Linked DNA regions of Homo sapiens: region 1 is linked to region 2. Evidence: fine-mapped expression QTL. A gene starts in region 2. The other region holds a variant in brackets. All regions are shown on one strand. Distances are between the middles of the regions.

What was found. PIP is the estimated chance that this variant, and not a neighbour inherited with it, causes the effect. A credible set is the group of variants that fine-mapping cannot tell apart.
Region 1: its variant is the best candidate, but not a certain one, in a credible set for the expression of GNG11 in monocytes after LPS (Fairfax 2014, PIP 0.85).

What each region holds. Positions count from the first base shown.
Region 1 is chr7:94,054,984-94,067,796 of GRCh38, forward strand. It overlaps LOC130890646 (a long non-coding RNA gene), which reads left to right. Exons shown (of 4, transcript NR_186703.1): 2 at 6,473-6,642; 3 at 6,786-6,881; 4 at 9,443-12,771. Among named protein-coding and RNA genes, the nearest start is that of BET1, 57 kb to the left of the region's middle. RefSeq lists an enhancer at 5,316-6,515. The variant T/A (reference allele first, on the strand shown) is at 7,412.
Region 2 is chr7:93,915,602-93,928,414 of GRCh38, forward strand. It overlaps GNG11 (G protein subunit gamma 11), which reads left to right and starts at 6,134. Exons shown (of 2, transcript NM_004126.4): 1 at 6,134-6,632; 2 at 10,490-12,813. The coding sequence starts at 6,537. The coding sequence ends at 10,615. LOC105375402 (a long non-coding RNA gene) reads right to left here. Exons shown (of 3, transcript XR_927751.3): 2 at 835-919. RefSeq lists an enhancer at 5,736-6,371.

The DNA.
Region 1 (12,813 bases), 140 kb after region 2:
TTTTCTCATATAATCAATTTAACATTTTAATCCTTAATATTTTAATTGATCTTCAATTTGGATAGATAGAACAGGAATTTAAGTTAAATATAAAATTATCTCTACAAGCAAAAGAAAAAGTTAAAAATATGTAACCCCCTCAGGATATGGAAAATTACTCTATTCTAAAACATATGCCATAAATTTTATATTAAATGAACACTGAATCACAGATGTTTCTTCTTTCAAATTTTTAATATTCACCAATTATATCTCTCCTTAATATCCTTTGACATTAAACTTAATTGACCCTGGTTCTGTCAATTAGAAGTACTTGTATTATTTATGGGTTTTATATGAATTGTCTTTATCAAGTCTTTAGAGCTTCGGGTTACTTGCTTATTCATCATCTTCTTTATCAAATCTGCAGTTTAAAATATTGGGATTTTTGAAATAATTTTTAATATAATAAAACATCTATTCTTGGGGGATGTTGATAATGGTGGAGGCTATGCATATAGCGGGCAGGGGACATATAAGACATCCTTGCACCTTTCTCAATTTTGCTGTGTTTTTACTTATATGTATGTATTTATATGTATTGTAAAGACCATCGATACTATGAAGAAACTGCATCAACTAATGGGCAAAATAACCAGCTAGCATCATGACAGGATCAAATTCACAAATAACAATATTATCCCCAAATGTAAACAGGCTAAATGCCACATGCAGACTGGCAAATTTGATAGACTCAAGACCCATTGGTGTGCTGTATTCAGGAGACCCATCTAACATGCAAAGACACACATAGGCTCAAAATAAAGGGATGGAGGAAGATTTACCAAGCAAATGGAAAGCAAAGAAAAGCAGGGGTTCCAATCTTAGTCTCTGATAAAAAAGACTTTAAGCCAACAAAGATCAAGAAAAGACAAATAAGGGCATTACATAATGGTAAAGGGATCAATGCAACAAGAAGAGCTAACTATCCTAAATATATATATGCACCCAATACAGGAGTGCCATTTATGGCCACAGAGCTGGATCTACTCTCTGAGGAAAAGAGGAGAAAAAAGTAGATGAAGAAAAGTTGAGGACTCAGAAGCAATCTCCCTGAAGTAATTTAACAACTAGAAGCTTAACAGAAGAAGAAGGGTCACAGACAAATGGGCAAAACATGCTGAGTCATGTAACATAAAAACTCAGAGAGGTGTGGGATCTTGGCAACTCACAGAAGAAAGGAAAGAGTGGTCAACTAAGGAGACCAGGAAGAAATAATCATCAACCAAGATTTAAAGAAAAAAAAAAAAAGAAAACTCCACAGAGTTTCAGCAAGCTGAACACATTGGCTTTGGCAAGTGCCCTTGATGACACTGATAATAGTTATTGTAGTGAAATGGTAATGATAACGGCCAAAAACCTGGTTGAAATAAGCTGAGAAAAATAGCAAATACACCCTTCACAGGAGTTTTCAGTGAAGGAAGCAGAGAAATAAGGTGATAGCTAACAGAGATGTTCTTCAAAATCAGTAATATTCAGTGAGCTTGAATATACTTCAAAAACAAAAAGACTCCTAGAAATGTCCTAGTGATATCACCCTAACTCTGTATCAGCTATCCAATGCTGCATAACAAATTACTCTAAAACTAACTTGTATAAAACAAGCATTTATTATGCTATTAGATTTTCAGAAATTTAGATGGGCACAGTGAGGAGAATGTGTCTACACTCTAGAGTAGGTATTGGCAAACGTGTACAGGCCCAGATAGCAAATATTCTTAGGCTTTGCAGGGCCAATGGTCACTGTCAAATTATTCAAATAGTCGATTATAGCACACTGCCATAGACCATGCATACAAGAAAAGAGCATGGCTGTGTTCCAATAAAACTTTATTTACAAAAATAGGCAGTGAACCAGATTTGGCCTGCAGGCTGCAGTTTGCAAACTCCAGCTGGAGTTGCTGGAATGTCTGAGGCCTCATCTGGAAGACGTGAACACTGGGGAGACATGACAGCTAGAGGCTGGAATTCTGCAGCTCCTCAGGTATTTCTTTCTATTTCAATGGGATCTCTCCACATGATCACTCATGCATAGCAGCTTCGAGTTAGTCACCCTTTTAAAATGGCAGCTGAGGTCTTGAAAGTGAATTACCCAAGAGGAAATGACAAAATCTTCATGGCCTTTTGCAACTTACGTTTTGAAATCATTTGGCATCACACATACCATATTCTATTTGTTGAAATCATCACAAATGTCCACCCAGGTGCAAGGGGAGGGACAGGAAGAAAAGTTTGCCTCTTTCTTGTGGGGAATTGTTAAACAATTTATGGACATGTTCTAAAGCTACCATACTCTCTAAGAAATGAGCAAAGAGTCAAGAGACCATTTGTTGCAATAAGGGATTTTTAAGTTTTATAAGAATTTGAGTGATTCCAAAAGTTTGGTTGAAAAAGAAAATAGTAGTCACACAATAATTTTTAAAAGTGTTTTGGGATGGTGCTGAAGAGAGAGAATGGCTCCTTATAAAATTCAATTATGACTGTGCTTAGTTGCATTCAGACTGTTTTACTAAAAAGAAGAAACATATTTGGTATTTTGTGTTTTTGGTTTGTCTGATGAACATAAAAATGATTATCTGATTCTTAGAAATACTGTATAAATGTCTTTGAGCATCTAGGTATGCTGAAGAATGGCCCCCAAAAATGTTCATATACCAGAACCTGTGGATGTTATGTTAGTCTGGGTTCTCCAGGAAACAAGAACAAAGAGGAGATACAATCCGCCGCCCCCCTGCCACCCCTCCACCCCCCGCCACACATACACCACATATAGAAAGAGATTTTTTTTAGAAGGAATTGGTTTACACAGTTATGGAGCCATGGAGCCCTGCACTCTATATTTGGCAAGCTAGAAAGCTAGGAATGCTGATGGTATTGTTCCAGTCCAAATGCAATGGCCTGAGAGAGGAGAGTCAATGGTGTAAGTTCCAATCTGAGTCTGAAGGGAGGAAAAGACCAATGTCCCAGCTTGAAGACAGTCAGGCAAAGAGATTGAATTCTCCCTTACTGCACCTTTTATTCTATTCAGGCTCTCGAGGGATTGGTTGAGACCCACTCACACCGGAGAGGGCAGTCTGCTTTACTTGGTCTACCGATTCATATGTTATTCTCATCTTGAAAAACCCTCACCGACATACCCAGGATAATGTTTAGCCAGATATCTTGGCAATCCATGGCCCAGTCAAGTTAACACAAAAACTAACCATTACAATTGCCTTATATGGCAAAAGAGACTTTGAAGGTGTGCCTAAGTTAAGGATCTTGAGACTGGGATGTTAGCCTGAATTAGCCAGGTGGGCCCTACAAGTAATCACAAGTTTCCTTAAAAGATGGAGGCAGAAGAAGATTTCACCACAGAAGAGGAAGGAGGGGATGTGACTAAAAAAAGCAAGAGGTTGGAGTAATGTAAGGATAGGGTCATAAGTCAAGGATTGTGGGTGGCCCCAGAAGCCAGAAAAGCCGAGGAAAGGATTCACCCCTCAGAGTCTCCAGACCCGCCTGTACCTTCATTTTAGCCTAGTGCAACTGATTTCAGACTTCTGGCCTCTGGAAATGTAAGAAAATAAATCTGTGTTTGTTATGCCAAGTTGGATGTAATTTGTTACAGCAGCCACAGGAAACTGATGCAGCCTCCTATTAGGAGGTTCATGGGACACATGAAGGTCATGCAGTTGTTTGCACATGACAGAAGTTGCATTGACTTAAGAGTTTGCCACAATTTTATGATGGTTAAAATGAAACCATCAATAGAGAGTTTGCGTGTAATAATTGCTCAATAAATATTAGTTAACTAAGATATATATTAAACAATAAAACAGTGGTGAAAACAGAAGATTTAACAAGAAGGAAAAGGCTTAAAGAAGTAGGGCTGAAATAGAAAAGTCCCAAGGGAACAGAGAATGGAATCTCTTCAGGGAGACTAAGGAATGTATCTCAAGGTCCACTGAAGGTAGGAAGGAGAAAATGTCTTCTCTCAGCACTTGAGTCAAGCCCCCATCACCAGAAGGCAGGATAAGGTTTGGCATTCATTCATTCAACCTTGAAGGCCCACCATATCCCAAGCACGTGCTACTCCTGGATACACATGAACAAGCAATGGGCTGCCTCCATCCTCCAGTGCACAGTGAAGTAGAGTTGGTCCCAGCAAGTACACATGGAGGGCCAAGTCCTCTAAGGCGTCCTCACTAATTGAAAATTATTTCCATTTCTTTTAAAATAAGTGTATGTTAGATGTCAAACTCCTAACTTCAATGCTTTAAAGATATTTTTACATGGGAAGCTAATAAAAACCTAAAAACCAAAGGAGAAAATATTCAGGCTCATACTACTTAGTATTCACTTTACTGAATTTTTGTTTACATCACATCTGCACCAACTGTCTTCTGGAAGCAGTATAGCAGAATGCTCAAGAGCATGGAGTTTAGAGCAGAAATACCTGGATTTGAATCCTAGATTTGCCATAAATTGTATTTGTGACTTTGGGCAAAAATTACTAAATCTCTGTATGCCGCAGCTCTCTCATCTACAAAACGGAGATGATAATAGTATTTGCCCCATCAAGTTTTCATGAAAATTGGATGAGTTAATAATTGTTAAGCACTAACACTGTCAGCCCATAGTAAGGGCTATATAAGTGTGTGTTGAGTAAAAGTATTAAAAACTTCTTTAAGACCCGGGAGTTCTTAAGAAAGCACATTCATACTCTGTAAATTGAGTAACTTTTTCAGGTGACAACATTTTCCTGCATGGTATTTTCCTTGCTCACTTTCCAAGGGTCCCCATGACGAATTTCCACCTACCAGTCAACAAAAGCAGCCAGAGCTCCATCAGTGAAAGCCCAGTGAACCCATATGTTGCAAATGAGTGTCAGTAATGACAACAGCAGCAAGGGTTTCACAATCTGTGCGTGAGAAGAAAGTTCACAAATGCAATCGGAAATGAGGTACTCCTCCTTCCACTTCTAAATCACTTCAAACCCTTTCAGACTAAAATAAGTACTAGGGATGTGATCCACAGCTATCACCTCGGGGTGGAGAAGTGAAAAACTTACTAGCTTTGCCAGTTTGACTGTCAGAGAGAGCTGCATTCAAATTCTGACCCCAATCCTTGCTATCTACGTAACAGACAAGTTAATTAAACTTTCTTAATCTGACAGGGAAAACGTTGCCACTTTGGCTGGTTTTAAGTATATAATTTAGCAAATCATACTTATCTTTGACTAAGTTGCAGACTGTAGGTTGGGTATTTAGAAATTAGAGCACCTACGGATCAGATACGCCCATTTATATTTTTAGTGGGGAAAGACATGCAGTGGGATCCCAAGCCTGTCTTTTGTGAGCCTTTATTGACTAAGCTTTCTGCCTTTTCCTTTCTAAAACCTTTTAGAAATTAAGAACATCCAGGCACTTCCTTTGGCAAGTCTGACACATACACAAGGGAGAGGACATAAATAATTTCCATACTCTTCAATGAAAGTGAATGTGTAACATATAAAACAATGGGCCAGGTGCGGTGGCTCACGCCTGTAATCACAGCACTTTGGGAAGCCGAAATGGGTGGATCACGAGGTTAGGAGTTTGAGAGCAGCCTGGCCAGCATAGTGAAACCCCGTCTCTACTAAAAATACAAAAATTAGCCGGGCAGGATGGTGGGCGCCTGTAATCCCAGCAACTCAGGAGGCTGAGGCAGGAGAATTGCTTGAACCTGGGAGATGGAGGTTGCAGTGTGCTGGGACTGCGCCACTGCACTCCAGCCTGGGTGACAGAGCAAGACTCCATCTCGGGGGTAGCGGGGAGAGGGGAAAGAATGGTGGCTAGTCAAACAGTCCTTTCCAGTAACAAGGTCTCAGGCACCCATCTCAGAAGATTTATTACATGCTGCCCCCACCATTGACCCCAAAGGAGACTGACTCTGCAAACAGCTCAAATCATAGTCATCCTCTTCATTTCCTGTGTGTCCCTCCCACTCCTCTCACTAACACGTAATACCATAGCCACATCAGTCAGTGGTTAGGATGCTGGGTTAATTTTACTCCCAAGGAAAGTGACGCCTGAGAGAAAGAGCCATTTGTTTGTCTTTTTAATTTCAGCTTCTTCCTAAATAAGACAGCCTTTTAGAAAGACTTTCACAGTGTCAGGTTAGTTACCTAAATCTTAGGTAACTTTAGGTTAGTTACCTAAAGTCACTCTGTGACTTCATCCTGATATAAAGGAACAAGGAAGAGAGTCGGATTAGGCTAACTCACTATGGTACATCTTATTTTTTATTTAGTTTATATATTTTGTGTTTTTAGATTAATTTTGCGGGTAGAGTGGGGCATAACTCAACATATTTTTTTCCTCACAAGCTGGATTAATTATTTTAGTAACATGAGCTGTATTAAAGGGGTCATAGAAGTCAGGTTAGGGCAAGCACTGTTATTTATGTTTTACAGATGGGGTAACACATAGAAAAGGCACGGAGAAGTTAAGTGATTTGCCTGTGGTCACAAAGCCTGTTAGCAGCAAACCCAGAACAAGAACCTAAGATTTATGACCGCCAGTTCCAGCTGTTTTTCTTCGTCATGTATCCTCAGCAATCAACATAATCAAAATCTGTTTGGAGGTAACTGGGTACAACAAAATAAATTATTGTTCCTTTTGTTGGGTGAATTCAGTTTGACCTGGATATTAAATTTGCACAAGTCTCACTGTCTCATTTAGTTATGTCTGCTCTTTTATTTTTTAAACTATGCTTATGACTTTCAGACTACTGATTTGTATAAAGGAAGATAACACCGAACAACCAAACAGGAAGTAATCCAGCGAATCTGGAACAGCGGTGGAATTTAGAAGCAAGGCCAGGTAAGCACTTCAAATATGCGAAAAGAAAATGAGAGAGCTGAAGGGACACCAAGCAATTTGATTTGCTCTTGGTTTACTCTGGAGGAAAAGGAATCCTTCTGAATTCTGAATTCCCAGAGCCAAGCCACTATATTCTTCTATTTCTTCTGTGTGTCTTCCAGGGAAAGTGTGTCCTTGTCAGCACCACAATGACACTTTCCATCCTGTGACAGAAACTAAGTCTTGAAAGACAACATTGTTACACTGTTTGGGGAGATCACGCCTAGTGGTTGTTTTGTTTTGAAGTGAGTGGGGATGGTGAGGAGGGGTTTAGTGAAGGAGTAAATGTGAATGATAATGTCATAAATTCCCCTATGATTCTGATTATGAGAACTCTCCTCAGAGAATCTCAGTTCCGTAGGGAACTTTGTCCAGGATCTCCCAATTCTTTTGAGACCTCATCCAAAAATGGTGACTTGGATAAAGAGAACTCAGGAACTGCATGCCACTCTTCATCTAACTCTGCATGCAGCTATGTTCACATTCTGCTA[T/A]CGCTGGCTGATGTTCAAAAACTCAGCCCAATGATAAGGGTTTTAAAAGTGTATTATTTTCACTATTGATATAGATCTTGTGGAATAATCATTTCATAATGAGCCAGATCTTAACTAGTAGCAGACTACTCTAGTGTCTGCTACTAATCAGACACACTCTAGTTTGTGGTTGGTGAAGCCAGAGAGTGATATCATTTCCTAAGAAACAGGCAAGGAGAGAGAAAGCAATTGAAGGGTGAAGAGCAGAGAACTATGAAGATGATTCAGGAAGAGGCACATGGAGACTAGAGGTAAAACAGAAGTTCTGGGCAGTGAACGAAGACATCTAATACAAGGAAAAGGGGGCCAGGGACTGCGGAGGAAGGAGTAGTTTAGATTTGATCTTATTTGCACCCACAGACCAGTTGCTAAGGGTCCAACTTTCTCAGGGATTAGATTTAACAGAGATAGAAAGTTAGTTTTCGAAGAGAAATCTTATTTATTAGCTAAAGTATGTCCAGTTTAATTATGTAATGAAGATGAGTATTTGTCACTCATTTATTTGAGTATATATTTTATAGATAACAATGTACCAGAGTGTAATAGAAAGTACCTTACAGTATAACTGTAGTGATTTGAATGGCTTGTCTGAGAAGGATGTGGAAAAAGGTCCCATATCTCTCAATATTAGTACCCAAGTCAGCCTAAAAAGAAACAAAACATTGTAAATATCTTGGTTCCTAGTAACAGAAGAGATTTTAAACACAGAGTCACCTAACTGAGTGGAATATTTTTAATTTAGTATCAGCACCCTTTCCTAAAGATGCTATAAATTAAGAACTCTCTGATTTTTTTTAAGCCATAAGTGTTAAAGAGTAATCTATTACAAATCAAGTTCAGTCCCACTCTTGATAACATTGTGTTTTTAGACTAATTTTGCAGGTAGAGTGGGGCATAACTCACCATAGTTTTTTCCTTACAAGCTGTATTAATTATTTTAAAAATAGCAAACATCATGAAAAATAGCCCAGCCAAATACTCATTTCTTTGCTTAATGTCTCATTGCTTGGCAATTTTCTTCACTGTCATTTTCAATGGAAAAATACCTGAAATTCATCTACTGAAATTCAACTGAACGGAGTGGTTTAAAAAGAATCAATAGACATGCTAATAATAAGGAAAGCATTCAAATGCAATATAGCATATGTTTCTAATTACCACTTCACAAGTCCCAGTTACAAATTAAGTCTCTTTTATTTCAATTAACAGTCTAATGGTGCTTCAGAGAGATAAAGAATGTTTTAAAAAGAAACCAAACCTCTGATGAAGAGCACCCAATTTTCTCTCCAAGGAAACATGATGAAGGTTTTAAGCTATGAGAAAAGTCTGGGATAGGTGATTTGGGAACTGTATTGTCCATCACAGCTAAGAGATGTAGATGATGTTTTTGGTTTTTGGTTTTTGTGCTCCCCTTCCTGGGACCTTCTCAGCCATTCTACTGCCCACTTCTCTTCTGATATCCTATCATGGGAGAGAAGTCACCCAGCTGGCCATGCATCTATACAACAAATATTTACTAAGCACTTGCTTTGTACCAGCATTTAAGTACTTGGTCATGAGGATTCAGTGGTATATAAGATCTAGTCCCTTCTCTCAGAAAGGTTGTTGTTTAGTGGGATAGACAGACATATAAGCTAATAGTTCTAGTGTAATGTGTCTATAACAATAACAGAATGAAAACATCTATAGTAAAGATTGATAAGTTAATTTACTCTAATGTGTTACGTCATTTTACCCAGAAGTTTTTAAATGAACAGAAGAATATATATACATATATTCTCTTTCTTTCTCTCTGTGTCATTTCTATGGGTGAAATTTCTGGTATTTGTGATTAGGATGATGAGATATCTGATACCCATAGAGGTGACCACAAACTCTGTCCATAAAGCTGAGCTTGTTATAAATTTTAATTTCAACTCAGGGCTGGATAAATTCATAGAATGTTAAGGGTTCAAGGAATTTCACAGTGTATCTTATTGATTCATTTTACAGATGAGGACCCTAAGACCTAGAGAAACTAAGTCATTTGCTCAAGAAGACAAAGGTAATCATCAGAAATCAACATGAGATTTCAGCTCTCCTGATCCTTAGTACAACATGTGAAAGAAGATATGTTGTCTTTACTCACAGTGGAGGCATTTTTCTAGCTGTGTTTGATTTGGCTTCCCTATAGATTCAGGACCCATAACTCTTGTTCTCACTCATCTGCTATGCTGCTGATAAGGACTTTCAGGTCAACAGCTGTAACTGCTAAATGAAGTTAATACTCTGGAAAAAAAAAAAAAAAAAAAACCAGAAGGAACAGAGACCAAAAGATTGAAAGCCATTTGGAAATTTCTTGAGTGGTGTCTGGCAGGTCTTTTATGAAGATTATCATAAACCAGGAAAAAAAAAAAAAACGCCTGCTGACTGTGTTATCTGTAGTGCCTATTGCCTATTTTGGCTGATTCATTGATGGTGTAACAGATAACAGAATGAAAGGAAATGGTTTGGTTTCTATAAAGGAAAAAGAATGGTTTGTATAAGGAAACCATTAGTTTCCTGAGATTGCTATACCAAATTATCAAAACTTGGTGTCTTAAAACAATAGAAATTTTTTCTCCCACAGTTCTGGAGGCCAGAAACTCAAAATCAGTATTTGGCGGCTGAAATCAAGGTGTTGGCAGCACCCTCTGGAGGCTCTCGGACAGAATCTGTCCCTTGTGTCTAACAGATTCTGCTGGCTGCTGGCATTCCTTGACTTGTGGTCGTATCATTCCCATCTCCTCCTCCATAGTCATAACGCTTTCTCCTCTTCTCTGGCATTTGCATCCCTTTTATAAGACACGTATGACTGCATTTAGGGCTCACCAGGATAATGCAGGATAATCTTCCTATTTCAGGATCCTTTGCCACATCTTCAAAGTCCTTTTTGGCCAATAAAGTAATATTCACAGGCTCCAGGTTTTAGGATGTGGGTAGTGGTGTTGGGGTGGGGGGCAGATTTGGGGGTGAACAACCAGCCTACTACTGGTGGGTGACTGGTTATCCATCATTCTTAAGTCAGAAATGATGACCCAAAATCTCTTTTTGCTTTTGCTTCACTCATTTTGCATTTAATTACTAGGCTCTGCTTCTTCAGACACTTTTATTACAGTTTAGTTTTTGCTACATCCCTCAAAAATGTCTTATTATTTTCACGGCCTGTCATTTAGTTATGTTTTCTTCTAAGTGTTTGGCTGTCTTGGTCAGTGCTCTAAAGGAATTAAAATCACTTGGTCAGGGCTCTGAAGTAATTGGTCAGTGCTCTGAAGTAATTAAAATCACTGTGAAGCTGAATGAAAAATCAGAAGAAGAATCAAGAGACCTATGTTTTGCTTGTTAGGAGAACTGTGTATCCTTTATGTCTATTTTTGGAGTTGGTGGTAATTTCTGGTCAAGGAATCAAATGTTCTTATTCCTAACCATATAGTCAGATAAGATGGCTAAGGTGCTTTCATAATCACCATTGATTCACTGTCAGATGGGCCCGTGCTCTGTGACAACTTTTCAATATTATAGACTTTACCAAATAAAAAGGTATCTCCTCATTCTGTGCACAGAAAAAGAAAATGATGGATGAGTATATTAGCCAGAACCCTGTCGCAGAAAAATAAGCATGAGTGTGCCCTTTCATGCCTCCTGAGAACTCCTGTGCTAGACAGAGCCTGTTCAAGATGTCTTTTCTGACTTTCTGATTCCAGTTGACATCTAGGCATATAAGGCAACTTTGTGATGGGGCCAGAGAGCACCACACATTGTTGTGTATGAAATACTCTATTCAGCAAACAAGCCGTGCAGCAACAAGACCTAGTGTGGTCAAGGATGGTGGACTAAAAACCACTATGAAAGCAGAGATGTAGCCACCTCTGAGACTGGTTTTCTAAGCAGGATGACTTGGTTCCATCCCTACAGGCATCGTCTGGTCCAGTTCAGCACAGAGCTAGCTGCAAGTGACAACCTAAGAGAAAAGTCAGCGAGAACAAAGATCCATCTCTTCGTTGACTGCCTTAATCCCTAGAGCTGTGTTCTTCAATTTGTTACTATTTGCTACAATTTTTCTGCCTAACAAGCAAGTTCTATCCTGCCTAGGAGAGAAACTTTTAGTAAATTCATCTTCATTCACTACTATTCAGCTCATGCTGTAAAAACTTAGATAATGCTGTCTGAAATACTTAACTCCTGGTCAAATGCAGCTGCTATTTCATTCAGTATAATCAAAGAATAGCCAAGGACTTTAGTTAATATTTCTTCAGATGATAGAGAATAAACAAATTGTTTTGGATATATCTACCATGCCCTCCAAACATGATTGTTGATATCTTTTCTATATAAATTACTTTCCTACATAAATGGTACTTAGCTTTTCCTTGAAAGATATGCTCTTCTCTCCAGCTCAAAGATAACCCTCTTTCCCTCAAATTATAAGTAATTTATATTTAATAATCTTTCATACGAATTTTTAAAATTACAAATGGTAAGGTACCACTATTTTTTATTTTGTAACAGCACAAACCATCAAATCAGAAAAAAAGAAAGGTTGAGTATGATCTCTGAAAAATGAATTCTAGTAGCATGTATAGCAAAAATCATCTTAGAATGAATAGAAGCCCTGAATAACTCAATGACCACCAGGCTTGTCTGCATCCACGTTCTACTTGGTTAACTGTTAAATAATATCTAACTTGTTGCATTGTAAAAACAACATGTGTCTGTAAACTGAAAAATAGATGTTATTATCCACCTGGTTTAGTCATAATGGAGAAATGTCCTTCAGTTGCATGATGCTCTTCCTATGAATGAGGAAACCAGATCAACATTTCCATTCAAGTTCTAGCTTGCCTATAACATTTCTTAGCTCCTTTTGCAAACCAAAAGTGGCAGCAGTTGTAACTGAATTAGTCTAACTGCTCAGACACATGCATTTCTGTTTGGTTGCTCTGGTCTCTTCTTGAAGGCCAAGTGCTGTGATCATTTATCATCATCAGAATTGGCTGCCATAACTCAGTGTTCCCGGGACCTGCAGTGGGCAGAGCACCAGCACAACCCGTAGAAAGCAGCTCCAAGATCAGCACCCTCTCATAAACCTACCGAGCCAGGAGCATCTTCCAGGCCCTCCACTCTCAGGAGTTTCAAGGAGAAAACAAAATGCTGAGGACTGGGAATGAGAAGCTTCAACCTTGCACAATCTCTACATTTTGCTTTACTCCCAAGAGGGACGAATGAAGAATGTTGTTATTGATGCTATGACCACTTCTCTCCCATATTGTGCCCAGTAAACATGGTCTTACTCATTATTGAAATACTAGCATTCTTCTATAATGGTTCGTACACAGCTGCTGCCC
Region 2 (12,813 bases):
TGGTCACGGAGCACGGTGAATTTAACCAGCAGCAGAATCACGGTTATAAGCATGCACTTAGGAGCCAGACAGTTCTGGCTCTGCCACTTTACTGCCCAACTCACTTTGGATAAGCTACTTAATTCTTTCTAAATTTGTTTCTCCTAGCATAGGATGAAGACAATAATGGTTATATCTTCTGTTTTGTGTAGGGGTTAAGTAATACACTAATGCAACTATAACACTCAGCATATTACCTGGTCCATGGTAAGATACAATAAGTGTTAACTAGTATTATTACTGAGAAAGGATCTAGACAAAATTTCTAAAGTGCTTTAAGAAACATGCTATTTTACCCTATCATCATGAAGACTCAACACCACAGTCTTTTCTTTAACAAGGTGAGCACACATGAGAGAGAAATCTCCATCACCTACATCAGGTCCTTCTGGCATCCTGTTGAGTTTACATGAGTCACATTTCACTACCATTGTGTTAATGACTAAGAGAAAACTTGCCTCTGCTTCTGTAACAAATGACAAGTTGTAATTACCTAAATCAGTAACCACTTTTGTGGTCAGTGTTTTCTTGTTGCTGTCTCACATTTACAGTGCTATTTTGTATACTTCAGTGATCAGAATACTCAGAAATACTAATTGATTGTCACACTTTAAAAAAAAACATTAAAATTATCTATTATTTGGTCTGGAAGGGAGTCTGAAAGTTGTACCAAAGTTTGGCTTCTAGCACAATGCCCTCCCACTCTGATCATCATAAATGCTCAACAAATATCTGTTGACTCTTGTCTAAACTCTTCATTTTGAAATGGAGAAAATAAAGTTTCAGAGAAGTCACCTGACAAATTTCTTCGGTCAAGACTCTGGGCTTCTGGCTGAACAGTCAGCAACACACCCCACCACGTGTCTTCATCAAATGTGCTCTGAGTATTAAGGGATTCTGGGATTAGTTACTGAATGTCTTATCTATTTTTCCTCAAGAAAAGCTTTTTATCCTCCTATTTAAATTTACAAAACCCTCTCCATACAGTCCTCCCAACCTCCACCAAGCGCTTCCTGTCTCTCTCTCTCAGTCTATTTTCCCCCGTAGCACCATCACCACCTGGCATACTACAATTTATTTGTTTATTTAATTGTGGTTTGTCTCTAGAAGTTTTCCACCTGCAAGTTAGTATTTATTTAGTGAAGTGTTCAGTATATCTCCCTTTCTCTGATTAAAATAAATACAAAGTAAGTACATGCTATGGCATTCAGTAACCTGTAGAAGATGGTCCTAACCAACATCTCTAACTTTCAGTTTACCATTGGAGACAAAGTTTGCAGCCCAACAATTCAAAATTAAAACCCTGACTCTTCCACCTTGTCATTGAGAACTTGGACAAATGACGTGAACTTTTTGAATCTGTTTTTTTTTATATATAAAATTAGTGATTAGGCTAGATTATCTGAATACTTATAATCTCTTAGATCAGAAACGGGTACATAGAAAGAAGCCTAACAAATGTCCTCTATTATTATACTTCCCGTGGACATTTTCCCACCACCTGGAATTTGGTCATACTGATCCCTCCACCTGAGATCTCCCTCCACTCCACCCCATTTCAGCCTTTTGAAATCCTACTCTTCTTATGAGACTATCTCTCCCATTCTACCTCAAGAGTATTTTGTGTGTCTCTTAAGTCATTTAACGTTACTTTACTTTTTCTCATTATAATTTCTACGGTTGTTTTAATTTCAGTACTACATTGGAGATTTCCCAAGTCAGAAGCACTGTTCATCTTTGAAAAGTGTCATATCAACTAACAAATTGTCTGGACAATGTAATTGACTTTAAAAGCAGGCAAGAGTGGTGCTTATAAAAGTTTATATTGGATCAAACTTCCTAAATGCCTCAATAATGTGTTTACATGAGGAAAATAGTAAACTAAGTAATGAGAATGATCAGTTATATATGATGGGAGTTAAAGTAATATAGAAACAAAATTGGTAAGAGAAATCATTTATTTTTATTTGTATTTTATTTTATTTTATTTTTTTGAGATGGAGTCTTACTCTCTCGCCCAGGCTGGAGTGCAGTGGTACGATCTTGGCTCACTGCAATCTCTGCCTCCTGGGTTCAAGCAATTTCATGCCACCACACCTGGCTATTTTTTTTTTTTTTTTTTTCAGTAGAGAAGGGATTTCATCATTCTGGCCAGGCTGGTCTCGAACTCTTGACCTCATGTGAGCCTCCTGCCTCAGCCTCCCAAAGTGCTGGGATTACAGGTGAGAGCCACCACTCCCAGCCAGAGAAATCATTTTGATATCCTGAATTATAAGTAGTTGCTAAGATACTCAGAGCATCAGACACAGATCATCCTTTGACTTGGCATTCTCTTCATCTAGAAAAGGAATCTTAGGGCTGGGTGCAGTGGCTCACGCCTGTAATCCCAGCACTTTGGGAGTCCTAGGTGGGAGGATTACCTGAGATCAGGAGTTTGAGACCAGCCTGGCCAACATGGTGAAACCCCGTCTCTACTAAAAAAGAAAAGAAAAAAAGAAAAACAAAATTAGCTGGCTGTGGTGACACACGCCTGTAATCCCAGCTACTCGGGAGGCTGAGGCAGCAGAATCACTTGAACCCGGAAGGCGGAGGTTGCAGTGAGCAGAGATCGCGCCATTGCACTCCAGCCTGGGCAACAAGAGTTAAACTCCTTCCCCTGCCCAAGAAAAAAAAAAAAAAAAGAAAAGGAATCTTAGGTAGGTAGTTACAGGAAACAAATGAGCTCCTGAAAATTGCCTCATGATTGTTTTAACAGATTAAAACAAATATCAAATGAACCAAGAGCGTCTGAAGTGTACTTTCTTTAAAGAAACCATAATTTCAATGGTCAAAACAGTTACTATGCACTTTTTAAATTTATTTATTTATTTATTTATATTTATTTATTTTTTTGTAGAGACCGGGGTCTCGGTATGTTGCCTAGGCTGGTCTCAAACTCCTGAACCTTTGGTCTCAAGTGATCCTCCTGTATCGGCCTCTCAAAGTCACTCTATAAATTTTAGAAGAGCAGACTTTGAAAGGTAACCTAGTTTACTTACACGAAATAAAAAAGCAGAAATAATGTGTTTCTTGCAAAAATCACAAGATAAAATAAGACCAGAATCCTGATCTTTTTTGAGTTCAAGTTAGTATTAGCTCAATTCCAGTTTAACTGCCTTCAATGTTTTATTTTTCTTTATATAGATTTTTAACAACATAACAAATCACAAAAATTGTCAAAACCTTGTTTTTCCTATTTTTGCATACCAAAGTAAAAATTTCATGGTTGTTACTCTTTTATAATTTAAAAGTGAAAATGGTTACTTTTATTTTTATTAACTAATTTCTATAAAACATTTGTGAAACGACAGTGGGCTAATTAATCAAAGTTCATTGCTGGTTGCACCTGTCATTTTTACTAAAGAATGGTTTCTACTCATACTACTTGTAAAATAAATTTTACCGGGGTACTATGTAAAATATAAGTAAAAACCTAACAAAACATTTGGACACAGCTAAACAAATTTTAAAATTTATTTATTCAAAATTTTTGAATATTGCTGATAAACTATTTCTGCAAGTATACATGAGAAATTGCTTAACATGGTTCTTCTCTGGGAGGTAAATTCGGTGTCTAGGCATAGAAGACTACACATCCTTTTGTTTAAAAAAAAATATTCTCATCATTTTACTATTTAAAACCAAACAGGGCCAGGCGCGGTGGCTCACGCCTGTAATCCCAGCACTTTGGGAGGCCGAGGCGGGCGGATCACGAGGTCAGCAGATCGAGACCATCCTGGCTAACACAGCGAAACCCCGTCCCTACTAAAAATACAAAAAAATTAGCTGGGCGTGGTGGTGGGCGCCTGTAGTCCCAGCTACTTGGGAGGCTGAGGCAGGAGAATAACGTGAACCCAGGAGGCGTAGCTTGCAGAGAGCCGAGATCGCGCCACTGCACTCCAGCCTGGGTGACAGAGCAAGACCCCGTCTCAAACAAACAAACAAACAAACAGGAAACCAGCAACAATAAAACCTTTTTCAGAATCCTGTGTGATCATGCAATTTCAACATTTTGCAATTCACTTCAGTTTAATCAATTTACTTAAGATATTAGAATATGAATTATTTAATAACAATAAAAAAGACTAACAAGTATTTTGTTTCTAATACGTCTCATAATACGATGGGAAAAGTTAAAGAACCAATATGGGCTTATAAGTATTTATCCCTCTAAGCAACTAGATGATTTCATGGGAAAGAAACTTCAAAGCCAAAATAATTATATTTTTATGACTTAGAACAAACACACATTAACAAAAAATTAGTCAGGCGTGGTAGCGGGCGCCTGTAGTCCCAGCTCCTCCGGAGGCTCAGGCGGGAGAATGGCGTGAACCCGGGAGGCGGAGCTTGCAGTGAGCGGAGATCGTGCCAGTCACTCCAGCCTGGGCGACAGAGCGAGACTCCGTCTCAAAAAAAAAAAAACAAAAAAACAAAAAAACAAAAAAAAGAACAAAAACACAATAATTTATTTAACCAATTTATTTAACTTAGGTGCTGAACCTATTTAATTTAGGCCACATTCACGTTGATTACTTTCACTAATTTAAGGTATTTTTGACCAACCTTTTAAATTTAAGTAATAGAAAATTTTAAAAATGAATTAGTGCACAAGACAGATATGGACATTTGTCTAGTCTCCCTGCTTATTTACAAGTAAACTTCAGTAGATGCTCTAACTACTCTGAGCTTGGAAAACCCTGGTATTTCAAATATTGAAAGTGAAGCTCTTAAACATTTTCTTTGTGAAAATGATTTATCATATATAGACATACCAACACAATTAGAGACACAACATAGCTTAGCTGATTCACTACTTCCCTGCCTTACTATACATTTTACAAATTAGAAAACCAAAACTAAGAAAAATTAAATGACTTCTTCAGTGATGGCCTGTGGCAGAGCTGCAACTACACGCCAGGAGTATTCATTAAGTGGTTCATTGTTTTTTTCATTCTAATTTATTCATTGAGGTTGAGCGGAGCGTGGTAAGAAACTAGGAACGAACAAAAACTCCTGCTTCCTAAACAGGGAATGGTCATGGGTGTCTTGGGTCAGCTACTCTGAAATATTAAGTTAATATTTCACTTGCCTTTGACTCTGTGAGGCAGGAGGTTATCTCTGGAAAGAAAGAGAAATATCCAACTGCTAGGGAAGGTTTCTTACATTCATGTTTGATTTTTCTTCTACTCTTTTGACCACCATCAACAAGACTTTAGTTACAGTTAAAGGGAAAGTTTTATTGCATGTAAACTTTTTTCACATCGGACACTTTTCCTGGCTTTCCAGAGCAACAGCTAGATAAATAGTGCTTGCCAGAAAGTGGAGAAACTAATACTAAATGAATCCACTGCCTACATCCAGGAAGGTTCAGGAGCCAGGAATTCAAAATCCTTGGTGTCAAGTGTCACCCAAAACTTAGGGTTGGGGAGTGGAGAAAGGCTTTCGGTTAAGAACTCTAAGATTCCTGCTTCTGTCTTCTCTTATATCATCCTTTGATGCACCCCTCTACATAACATTCCCCCGGAAAAATAAAAAAAATACAAACTCTGCTGCTGTTGAGGATGCAGATGATTATTTAATAATAGAAAATGTTCTTGCAACTTGTAAACGATATTCACACCCTGTTGCCCCCTCCTCGCCCAAAATGTATAAACCCATATTAGGCCTCGAACAAGCCGGATGGACACAAATGAGCAGAACACTGGTGGGTATTTCTGGGATTAGGGCTAAGCTTCATTTTCTTTTCAGCCTTTTCTTAAGCGTCCGCATTCTCCACTATGCATTTATTACGTTGGTGCAAAACTAATTGCACCAACCTATATATGTAATTAGAGAAAAGTAATTACTTTTGCAACAACCTATGTATGTAATTAGGGAAAAGCTATATCTAGCATATTTTTAAAACTCTTTGAGAGGTGAAGGGTAGTTATTTCCTGCTGGGTAGTGTACTCCTTTTCCTAGCTTCACAAACAAAACCCGGATGTGACTTGGAAACGGAAAAAAAAAAAGGAGCGGGGGTGCGCGGAGAACACAAAGTAAAACTTCTGCTGTTCCCAGTCCTGCAGCCCCAGCCCAGCCGTCCCCCGCGGGCGTGGCAGGTCCTGAGTCAGGGCCTGTCCGTGGCCAGCATCCCTGCTGGGCGATTGAGCAGCGGGAAGCTGCTTGGACCCAGTCTCAAACTTAACCCTCATCTAGCACCCGGGCAGGCCTCCTGGGTTGCAGGGACTTGAGAAAAGGCAGAGTTCTCAGGTCCTAGGAAGCTGGGGCACGCTGGCGTGACAAGCGTCCCGGAGAAAGCCAAGCCCTCGGGGAGCTGGGGACCGCAGCAGGGCTGCAGTCACATCCTGCGCGGGTGGGCGGCGGGCCAGGCCTTCAGTTGTTTCGGGACGCGCCGAGCTTCGCCGCTCTTCCAGCGGCTCCGCTGCCAGAGCTAGCCCGAGCCCGGTTCTGGGGCGAAAATGCCTGCCCTTCACATCGAAGATTTGCCAGAGAAGGAAAAACTGAAAATGGAAGTTGAGCAGCTTCGCAAAGAAGTGAAGTTGCAGAGACAACAAGTAAGTTGGCTGTTCCGGAATATTTCCTTCTCTGAAATGAAGCAGGGTCCGATTTTTCCTGCTTAGTAACAGTAAAGCAAATAGTTTAGCTTATTTTTCCCCCTTTTTGTAGCTTCTCTTCTCACCACCCTTTGGCAGTGCCTGGGGACTGCCAGCTGATGTGGGGAAATCCTAGGAGGTAGAGGAGGGAGCAAGGATCTGATAAGTAATTTAAGGCCAAATGTCCTAACTTTTAAGATGCCTAGGAAGGGGAAAATAGACAAGAAATCTTGCTTTCCATTAGACAGCTGTTTTTCAAAACTCACTTGTAGGAAAAAAGCGGATAGCTACTTGGTTCTTTGATCTTTTACACTACTAGAAAGGATGATATTTGAAAGAAATTTTCTAAAACCGTATTTTAAAGTCTTACAAGTACATTATTTAATTTTGAATTTCACCAGTGGCCTTCAGTGATATGCAAAGAACAGTCCACCGAAATTTGGGAACAAAATATTAGAATTTCTATATTTATTTGTAAATCTCATCCCTTTATAATTTTCACTTTATGTTTTATTAGTATGCGATTAATACAGTAGTATCTGTACTTATTTATAAATAATTATACATACACTGTGGTGCATATGAAAAATTTTTTTAGTGATCACAATTTTAAAGTTTTAGAGACTATTGATAGAGATTACCATTTCATTGAGAACATATGACCCAGTATTCAATATTCTCCACTGAAACGTCTCGGGAGTTTTATAAGTTTTACTTCAATTTCTTACTGGTCATCAAGACCTTCCTTCAGACACTAATCCCTCTTCCTGTTTTAACTCAATCAGGCATCCTGTAGACTAGGAAAGGTCTTTGAATAGATATTGTTTAAAGATAATTAACCTTTCCTCTTCAGCAAGAAAATTTTGAACTGATCTTATTTATTATGGTTTAGCACTAGAAAAAATTAAGAAAAACAATGGAAATGAAGCGTTATAATATGCTCACTTGCCTTCCTGTTCTAGTTATAATAAATCTGTTAAGGGCAAGAGTCTTCACTGTTGAGTGATGATTAGAAGATGCAGGCATTTTTGTGTTTTACTTTTTACATATTTCTTTTCTCAAATTTAACCTTTCACATCCAAATCCCGGCTCTTCCTAGCTTTTATAATGAGCTGTCCCTTCTATCATGTTAAGGGTTTGTAGCTTTAAAAACACCAACGCGTTTAAAGGGGAAAAAAAGGAAGTTACACTACCCAATCAATAAGCACGCTTCTTGAAACCTTAAGGGACCCATTTTATGGATGGCGAAGTTCCCAGTACAGCAAGTGCTGGCCACTTAGATATGTTCACACAATAAACCTTAGGAGTTACATATTAAACAGAGTTTCATATGCTGAAGTACAGCATTGTCTATGCAAGGTTCTAATATCTTAATATTTGGTATCACTGTGTAGAACTTAGGAAAAAAGACAAGCGTCTTCTACTTACTCAGAGTTTTAAGTTAAGTGATGTGGATGCAACCGACTATGTAAAAATTGACTGTATCATTCATTAGCAGTTTCTCCCTGCTAGCCAGCCTGACCCTTTAGGACACGGCCTGTGGCATCAACTTCCCACCTCCAGAAACCTCAAGTGTATGCCAGAGGGAGAAAAAACTTTGGATATATGTAACCTTAGGAAATACAGAAAGAGGCATCTAAATCTCAACAATAATATTAAGACATTTGATTATACACTTGGAATTATACATTATTATTGCTAGGCAAGCATTGGAATGTTTAGAGATCATTCATCTCCCTCACTTTAAGGATTAAAAAAAACTTGAGTCCCACAAAGGCTAACTAGCTCCACATTTAAGACCACAGAGATAGATAGTGATAGGGCAGGTACTAAAACATTCTTCTTCTCATTCCCAGTCCATTATTCAGTCAATAAATAGTTAACATCTGGGCTACGTGTTCAGTCCTTAACTTAGGCCCAGACAAAACTTGCAAGTTGCATTCTGGCTGTAGTTAAATGTTTATCAAACATGTCCTCTTGATTATGGAAGGAAATGTATCAGAGGAGCAATTACTCACATTTGGAGGTTACAGACCTCTTCTGAAACCTAATGAAAAAACCTTGTAAGAAAAGATTCAATGTAGGGAGCATGTATCTTGCTGAGAAATTAACCTGGGACGACAGACCCTAAATTATGACACGTGCATTATCAACTCTAAAAATTCACTTAAAATGCATGCACTCTGAATGTCAACAAACGAGAGCAAATGTTACCTGAAAGAATTGTATTTGAAAGATTTTATTTTGCCAGATTTTAAGTCACACAACTACATCACCTAGTTTTCAATTTGAGGTCAGAGGCTTCCACACTGATTTGCAGAGGATAATCATTTGGGGTGTGGAAGTAAAATGTTAACATTGCTATTTCTGTTTAGTTTTAAACCTCACCCATTTATAATTTCCAGTTTATGTTTTATAATTTTGCATGATGTATTAACAAAGCAGTGTCTGTACTTATTTGTAGTTAAAAATTATATTCATTTTGGGATACACATGCAAACATGTTTTAGTAGTAACCGTTAAAACAGTTTGAGGTTACTAATTTAGATTACTAATTCAATGGGAACATTTGCCCAGTTTTCATAGGTCTCCATTTAAATTTGCTGGTGCGGCCTGGCGCGGTGTCCCACGCCTGTAATCCCAGCACTTTGGGAGGCCAAGGCGGGCGGATCACGAGGTCAGGAGATCAAGACCATGCTGGCTAACGTGGTGAAACCCCGTCTCTACTAAAAATACAAAAAATTAGCCAGGCGTGGTGGTGGGCGCCTGTAGTCCCAGCTACTTGGGAGGCTGAGGCAGGAGAATGGCTAGAATCCGGGAGGCGGAGCTTGCAGTGAGCCGAGATCCTGCCACTGCACTCCAGCCTGGGCAATAGAGCAAGACTCCATCTCAAAAAGAAATAAATAATTAAATTAAATTAAATTTGCTGGTACTTCTGTAATTTTTACTTTAAATTTCTTACTAGCAATACAGGCCTTCATTAAAACCCTAATTTCTTTTCTTTTGTTTTTATTCTTTTTTTAATTCATTCTTGCAACCTGTCTTTTAAGGATAGATAGACTTTTTGAAGAAACTCTTCTTTTAAGAATAGACTTTTTGAAGACACTATTCAATTTTTTCTCCATCTCAGAAAAAAATTTATTCTCAGATAAGCCTAATAAGTCTCAGATAAGTCTTTTATTATGATCATTGCCCTCATGCAGCAGGAAGAAATTCTGAGGAGCAACACAGAGTGCGATATTTGGACAATTCCAATCTTTCCAGAATCAGGCTTTTTCCAAAGCTTCTATCATTTCGTGAAATTTCAGAACATGGCACACACCCATAAGTGAGAATCGTGGCATTACACACCCCAAAACATTTGGGGATTATCTACTACTGCACCTGCTCACTAGCATGGAAAATTAAAATAAGAGTATATTTCAGTTCCTAAAATATTGTAGACATGGCATAATTGTATTTTAGCAGAGGAAGGAAATCATATGAGACACAATGGAAAAAAACTGCTGGAGATGATTTATTTAATGCAGTGACTTTCAAACATTTTTTAATTTGACCAACGACCAACAGTAAGAAATATATTTTACATAGGTTGCATCATAGGTATAGTAATAGAATAAAAATATTAGAGTGCAGAGCCCAGATTTTATATATGTATTATATATATAATATATACACACACACATGCACATATATATGTAAATGTAAAAAAATGTTTAAAAACTTATTGTATTCAATTATACTTATTTCATTAAGGCGTAGGGACAAAGTTTAAACAACCCTAACCTAATGTATTCTCTTTTTTTTCTATACTTAAGGTGTCTAAATGTTCTGAAGAAATAAAGAACTATATTGAAGAACGTTCTGGAGAGGATCCTCTAGTAAAGGGAATTCCAGAAGACAAGAACCCCTTTAAAGAAAAAGGCAGCTGTGTTATTTCATAAATAACTTGGGAGAAACTGCATCCTAAGTGGAAGAACTAGTTTGTTTTAGTTTTCCCAGATAAAACCAACATGCTTTTTAAGGAAGGAAGAATGAAATTAAAAGGAGACTTTCTTAAGCACCATATAGATAGGGTTATGTATAAAAGCATATGTGCTACTCATCTTTGCTCACTATGCAGTCTTTTTTAAGAGAGCAGAGAGTATCAGATGTACAATTATGGAAATAAGAACATTACTTGAGCATGACACTTCTTTCAGTATATTGCTTGATGCTTCAAATAAAGTTTTGTCTTGGGAAGATGAGTGTTGGTGATTTAAGAAGACACTTTTCATGCATTAACTTTTATATTTCTCCCCGTAATCTTTTGGGTGTGGAGTATGATTGGGTTTGGAATATGATTCAGAAGGTTAGGTGGTTCGACAGATCACATCTCCAAACCCTGCGTCAATGGTTTAGAGTGCTGAGTTCTGACCTCTGGAACGTGTTTGATCTAACCTTAACTATTAAGAAACTGAGCAGGTAGAATTCCTATAACATTGACAGAAGTCAGATTATCTGAGTCAGGAACAAGGCCAAGCCACATCTATGTTAGTACTTCCCTAGTTTATCATCATTTAGATCTTCTTAATAGTGTTCCTGTAGTAGTAGCCTTGAAGAAAATACTGAGTTGGGGTTCAGGAAGAGTGCCCTGCCTCTCTGCCGTGTAGTGGCCAGGCCAGCCCTGGCTTTGAGAGCCAGTACTTATTCCTGCACAGAGCTACATCTCCCATGTGCTCTCCAGGTCTTGGGCATGGCACTACTCCAGTTCTGTGGCATTGGTGCAGACACTTGGACCTCTGCACTCATGCTTGCCAGCATTTTCCAGCAGGCCTGGGCCAAACATGCCTTTTTTTCTTCTCCTCCAAAGGAACCAGTGAATCTTTGCCCACTTTAAAGATTAGTTGGTCTTTTTCTTACTGATTTGTAGGAATTCTTCATATATTCTGGCCATTTATTCGTGTTTGGTGATATGTGTTGCGAATACCTTCTCCCAGTCTGTGGCTTACCTTTTCACAGTGACCTTCCCTTCAGTGGTTTTATCCTGCAGGGCAACACGTCAGAGTATAACTCCTGCTCAAGTTCATAACAAAGGTACCTGAAGCCCAAACCTCACAAAAAGGGACCTTTCTTTCTCACCTTGAGCATTCTCCCGCTTCTTCTCCGTCTTTTGGGTCAAAATTGCTCCAAGTTTGAGCCAAAAGAAAAACGTGGAAAAACCCTTGCTGGTTAGCTCTAGCTCAAATGGACTTAGTCATTAACTTGACCTGCAATTTTCAATGTGGCACCAGAAGCCAATGTTTCTCCTTGACTAGCTCTTTTCTCCCACTTACACATGTAGGTATACCTTACTATCAAGCGAGAGAGGCGCCTGTAACCTGTAGCAGCTTTCTAAAGTATATCAGCATCCTCGTTCTGAAATTCCTTTCCTTTCCCTCTCTGGGAAAGAACAGAATACCCCAGGCTTTTGAAAAATAGTTTACACAGACCAAAAGCAGAAACTATTTCCTTCAGTTTCCTGACACTGTCCAAGTGATGACATCAATTGGCATTACTGAGAGCCCAGGGATAATTTTAGCCCAAAACTACTACTCCTAGGAAGGAGTAGTATGATCTACTACTCTTAGGAAGGATTTAGGAATAGTAAAGGTGTATTTCTTCCAAACAGCATAGAACTATTAGTACTATTAGTCATTTAACATTTAACATGGCATGGGATTTTAGAGCTTTGGTGCCTGTAAAGTTTTACTTCTATTAGCTGTTTCATTTCTTTGCACTTATAAAGTTTTCTTCTGTTGCCTATGAAAGCAAACATTTATTCCGGTTACTGGCAAGGCAGTTTAAATCACCTGCTTCTTTCATGAAAGGCCAAGACAATACATTTATTCCCTAACTTGTTGGGAGTTGCGATTACAAGTCTATATCCTGATTTCTATTAGCACATTCAGCTATCCATTTGTGTACACTCCCAAGTCCTAGCTTTTGCTCTTCATGTCTCTTTCAACCATATGATCAATCAGTTGGACGACTTCTGGTTTTTCCTGAATAAATATCTAATCTTATAGGTGCTTCTATTAAATATAATTCTGTTTCTTTTTCTTACCATTTATCATTATAACCCAGCCAACATGTAGAAGTGCAATAAAAATATTTTAATTTT